Linked DNA regions of Homo sapiens: region 2 is linked to region 1. The links come from fine-mapping of genetic effects on gene expression. A gene starts in region 1. The other region holds a variant in brackets. All regions are shown on one strand. Distances are from middle to middle.

The links.
Region 2: its variant is fine-mapped to the expression of LPP in whole blood (INTERVAL, PIP 0.97).

What each region holds. Positions count from the first base shown.
Region 1 is chr3:188,152,447-188,155,358 of GRCh38, forward strand. LPP (LIM domain containing preferred translocation partner in lipoma) reads left to right here and starts at 1,711. Exons shown (of 12, transcript NM_001375462.1): 1 at 1,711-1,806. It overlaps LPP-AS2 (LPP antisense RNA 2), which reads right to left and starts at 1,642. Exons shown (of 1, transcript NR_036497.1): 1 at 1-1,642. RefSeq lists an enhancer at 246-1,146 and a silencer at 1,579-1,918.
Region 2 is chr3:188,883,882-188,886,793 of GRCh38, forward strand. It overlaps LPP (LIM domain containing preferred translocation partner in lipoma), which reads left to right. Exons shown (of 12, transcript NM_001375462.1): 12 at 1-2,912. Among named protein-coding and RNA genes, the nearest start is that of TPRG1-AS1, 62 kb to the right of the region's middle. The variant A/G (reference allele first, on the strand shown) is at 1,282.

The DNA of each region.
Region 1 (2,912 bases):
TGTACTCTCAACAGTTATGAATGGAATTAGGTCCTGCTAGAGGTCAGGGCCAGGTATGGAAAGATGAAGGGATTAGTCAGGAGACCTGGATGGGAGGAGGGGAAGACAGGTGCTTGGTCAGTCAGTTGTTTTGTGTTGGGCGAGTAACGTTTCTTAAGTTTTTGTCTGAGGTGTAAAGGGGGGACTACGCTCTGTCCTATCTAACTCACCTGAAGATGCAATAGCCGGGTGAGAGACTGCTTTCATTATGTGCTAACGTGAGGGATTACTTTAGATATTAATAGGAGAGAAGTGCAAGGAAAGGAAGTCTCAGGGTATGGAATGCTTTCCTGGCCATGGCTGCTGCGCGTCATAATCCCCTAACACAGTTAAGTGGTGGTTCTCATCGTCGTTCACCCTTACAGATGTCAGAGGGGAAAGAAAAATCCAACTCAAAACTTCCAATGACAGGCTTGTCTGTATTCAAACCAGTTCATCTCGTTCGCAGACTTTTTTGAAGCTATAAGCACAGAGCAAGCTTTCTGGGCGGGGCTCAGAAGTAAACGTTAAACTCCAGGGATTCATTTATTTGAGCACAGGACAGAGGAAGTTGCCCTGAAGCAACTGATTGTCATTGATATTCAGGGCTCGCTGTCAACCAGGACCTTCCAGGAACTGGCTCTGGGCCAAGAGCAGTAGAAATCACTGGGTGGTCCGCACAGCTCGCGGGCATCTAACCTGCTTCAAGGCTCAGGGCTAAAAGGGAGCCAGGGCCCTTCCTGGAGGCGGGAACCCAAGTGGGAGGCAGAGCGCCTGGGCCCGCTCCTCGATCTGCTGAGTGACGACCCTGTACAAGTCATTTCTCTTCCGAGAGCTTCAGTTTCCTCACGTGCCAAGCGGACGGGTTGGAAGTTGGTCTTTGCCAGCTCTGACACCTTGTAAGTTTTGAGTCTTGCTGGGAATCCAGGGCGGGGCTCACGAGGAAAATCTTGGAAGGGGATTTCATGGCTGGATCTCTTCCACTCAAGCTCAGTGCCCTAATTTGACGCCTTAATAGTAGACGCAGGCTTTTCCATTTTCCAGGAGCCCCCTGACGCGGCCGCTTCCTCCTACGTCTCCTTCCTCTTCCTCTAGCAGGGGCAAAGTCTCCACATCTCCCTCTTTCTCTTCCTCCTTTGCAAGCTCCCTGCATTCCCGCGTCTCCTCCTCTTCCTCCCAGGAAATGCAATGCCCTCAGTGCGCCCACCTTTTGGCAAAGCCACTGCCGGCTGCGGGTTTCCCCTCCCCCGCCAGGCGAGCTCTGCGCGGCGGCTTCGCGGGCACACGCCTTCCCATACCTTACATGGACAAATGCGTGCAGGCAAAGTCAGGAATTCAGGCCCCTGACGTCAGCCTCCAGCGCTCAGGGCACCGCACGGGAGACCAAGGGGAGGGGGTGGGGACGGTGGGGAGGAAGGAGGGGGAAAGGCACCAACCAGCAGCCGCTCCAGCCCTGCCGAAGTTTCACTTTTTGTCTGTGGGTTCGTTCCCGGGTCCCGCGCGAGCTTTCCCGGGATAAGTAGCTTTAGCGATCGGGAGACAGCCGGGCGCTGCAAGGTAAGGGCTGGCTGCACGGCCCGGGGCGCGGGGCGTGGGGCGCTGGGCGCGGGCGGCGCGCTCGAGGAGGCCAGTGTGGGGCGCGGGGCCGGGCCTGTCCGGGGCTGGGGACAATGGGAGGGGGAGTGCCCGGGCACCTCCTCCTCTGCCTCTGCCTCCGCCTCCAGCCGCCGCCGCCGCCGCCGCCGCCGCCACCACCACCGCCGCTGCCCCGGCTGCCTCCTCCCTGAGGTATTGTTGCAAATCCTTCCTTCCCCTCACCCTCCACCCGCGGGCGCCTCGGGAACCCCCAGCCCTCCCCCGGCGCGAGCGCCTCCGGGGTGGCAAGAGCGCAGGGCGCGCGCCCTGCTCTGGCCTGGCCCGCTGTGCGGAAGTGCCGGCCGCGGCCCAATCACGGGGTGCACGCCATGGGGGAGGGGGACCCAGAGTTTTTCCAAAAGCGTCGACCCCAGGCTAGGCGGGGTTGGAGCCTTGCGCGCCCCCTGCCCGGACTTTTCTGGGCGCCCAGGGGGCGGGGCCACGCCCATCCGCTTAGAGCTTTCGCGGAATCACAGTTGTCACAGCGGAAAGGGCCTAGACCCAGTCCTCCAAGTCCTCCCATTTTACAGTTGGGGCAGCTGAGGCCCAGAGAGAAGGAGGGTCGCCCGGAAGTTATTTACTAGAGGCCAGACCATAATTCAAATAGTTGGCTCCGGACTTAAGTTCCCTTTCTCTAAGCATTTCTCTAGCACCCTGTGTGTGGCAGACCCTGTGCTGGGTGTATTGGACGTTGCCCTCAAGGAACTCAGTTGAACCTGGGAGTCAAACCTGGCCTAGGGTAGAAAATGCTAAGTGCTGGAGCAAAGGCGTGGACAAAGTTAAAGGAAGTTCCAGGGAGGGGGTTTGATTTTCTGGTCCCTGGGACGGCCTTTTGGAGAGTCCTGCACTGAATGGGGTTTTTGGAGGTTGAGGAGTTTCCTGAAGCCAGCTAGCGGCTTGGAGGAAGACATCTCTTCGAGGGAACCGTGGGCCAGAGAAGACTAAGTAGTGTGGGAAATGGAGATGAAAGTATAAATATTCTTTAGTTGGAGGCAAGGGGTTGGGGATGGGGGAGGTTGTGATATGAGATGAGCTAATCAGTGGAATTGTGCCTGGGTGCTTGGACAGGGCAGAGTCTTTGGAACCTCGGAGTCGTAGGAGAACTGAAAAATCTCTCTGGCTTCCCTTCCCTTAGAAGGGATCCACTGCTTTCCCTCCCCCAACACAAAACAACTAGCGAGAACTCAGGGTCTTCTCTGGGGCTTTTGCTAGTACCAAACTCACTTAACTGTGTTTCCAGTCCCCTTTCTCTTTCCATT
Region 2 (2,912 bases), 730 kb after region 1:
GGAGAGGGGTTCTATTATGCTATAGTTTTCTATGGAAATGTACAAATGCTTTCCTCATTGCTCTGGATGACTATTTAGTTTAAATAATATACCTTTGTCATGGGGAAGACCATGATTGTGGCTTCTTCTACCCCAACTTTGAATGAGAGAGCACTGTAAGCAGAAACTGCCATCAGTCTCCTGGGCAGGACCTGGAGGTAACTTTCTGAGCTGTAAAATAGTAATTCCTAAGAGAGCTTACAAACTGCTTCCACACAGAAAATAGCGCAGGGAGGACAGTTATTAGTACCCCTATTCTAGAAGAGAAAGCTGAGGCTCAAGCCATTAAGTGACTTGCCAAAAGCTGTGACATAGCTGGGAAGTGGCAGATTTGGGGATATAACCAGGTCTTGCAAGTCCAGTGCTGTCTCCAAGTAGCCACGCTCACAGCTGAGAACACCTTAGAGGACAATATCGACTTCTTACAGACTACCAAGCCCCCAGTCATCCAGGGAAATTCAGAGACCAATTGACTGCCAGGTGGCAAATCCACATGTGTACTGCGGTCTTTAGAGATCATTTAGAGCTTGCACACATCTGTGTCTTCTTGTGGGAAACCTCTAGGTATTCTGTCTGATCAGCACTGTGAGGAAGTTGGTGGGAAAAGGCCACTGATAAGAACAAACAATGGGCAGAAGGAAGCACATTGCAATAAATTTCCCCAGAGAGAGTTCCTTTACATTCCATTCACCAAAAACCTCTCTGGAACTGTCAGGTTCAGAATATCAACCAAGACCATATCATTTAGAATTCATTGGCATGTAGAGGTGACTCGATTCCTAAAAGAAGCCTCTCTCCCATGAACCACGATGTACGTTCCACAGAGGCAGAAACCGCCGTAGGTTAGCAATGCATTTTAGTCTTTCTCTCCATTCACATTTACTGAGAGCACACCACGTGCATGTTGCTGCAACAGGCATTTCCGATAGAGCCGATCCATGAGCTAACAATGTCTGAAAACAAATGTTATGGAACTGTTGGCATTTCTGAGATTTGGCCTTTGCCATTTGATAGACTTTGCTTCCCAGGATGCTGTCATTTTGTGATTTTTTATAATTACAAGGAATTTGGTACCATGTTGTTTTCAAAAAACCTCCTAGAAAGTCTCCATGTATGCTCTAGAAGTTGCTCTACGTAACAGTTCAGCAAGCAAGTGTTCCTTCTCTTGAGCTGCGTCCCTCAGGAAGCTGTACCTTTAGGGTGTGCTTTCCACTTTTTATTTCCTCTCATTTCACTCCTTTC[A/G]TTGTTTGCTATATCCTAAAATATGTGAAGTGAGAGAAAAAATATCATTTCTTCTCATTAAATCTCCTGCATTAAATCTAAGAATCCTTTAAAATAATCACACCTGATAAGTGTTTTATGCATTTCCCTCCCTGGAGTGTTATCATCCATCAAGCCAGTATCATCATCCACCTGCTTATTCCTTGGGACTAATGAGAGCCAAGTTAAATAGCAAATGACTTCTCACCCCTTCCTAGTCCTCATGCCTGAGGAATAAGGGCGACATTAATGGGAGCGGGAGAGTGGTGGCTTTGGTTGAGATGCACGTTCACAGACTAGAAAAGTGCCTCACCTCCATGGTGTATATGTGCCACCTTTTCTTAATCCAGTCTATCATTGTTGGACATTTGGGTTGGTTCCAAGTCTTTGCTATTGTGAATAGTGCCGCAATAAACATAAGTGTGCATGTGTCTTTATAGCAGCATGATTTATAATCCTTTGGGTATATACCCAGTAATGGGATGGCTGGGTCAAATGGTATTTCTAGTTCTAGATCCCTGAGGAATCTCCACACTGACTTCCACAATGGTTGAACTAGTTCACAGTCCCACCAACAGTGTAAAAGTGTTCTTATTTCTCCACATCCTCTCCAGCACCTGTTGTTTCCTGACTTTTTAATGATTGCCATTCTAACTGGTGTGAGATGGTATCTCATAGTGGTTTTGATTTGCATTTCTCTGATGGCCAGTGATGGTGAGCATTTTTTCATGTGTTTCTTGGCTGCATAAATGTCTTCTTTTGAGAAGTGTCTGTTCAATACTATGCAGCCATAAAAAATGATGAGTTCATGTCCTTTGTAGGGACATGGATGAAATTGGAAATCATCATTCTCAGTAAACTATCTCAAGGACAAAAAACCAAACACCACATGTTCTCACTCACAGGTGGGAATTGAACAATGAGAACACATGGACACAGGAAGGGGAACATCACACTCTGGGGACTGTTGTGGGGTGGAGGGAGGAGGGAGGGATAGCATTAGGAGATATACCTAATGCTAAATGACGAGTTAATGGGTGCAGCACACCAGCATGGCACATGTATACATATGTAACTAACCTGCACATTGTGCACATGTACCCTAAAACTTAAAGTATAATAATAATGAAATAAAATTAAAAAAAAAAAAGAAAAGTGCCTCACCTCCCTGTGAGGCTTGATGAATATTGTGGCCAGTGAGTGGAAAATGATTCTTGTCGAATAGACAGAGTATTCCCACCCCAGGAATGGATTAATAGAAGACACAATTTGAGCACTTCTCAGAATTATCTAGTATGCCTGAGTAGAGACTCACATGGGTGGAATCTGTGTTGTCTCATCAGAGGGAATAAAAAGACAATGAGGTGGTAAATGTGAAAAAAGCAGCCTTTTAGAAAAACATTATTTTCAAATACCTTTATAAATCATCTAATTTATCTTCACATAATATAAAGAAAAAACTAATAAAAATTTTCGTATTTCACTTTACATAATATGTTCTCCCATATTTAGGGATCATACAATTGTATTGTCTTCAAAACACACACACACACACATACACACACACACACACACACACACACACCCCTTCCAAGAAAGCTGATCCTTCAGAA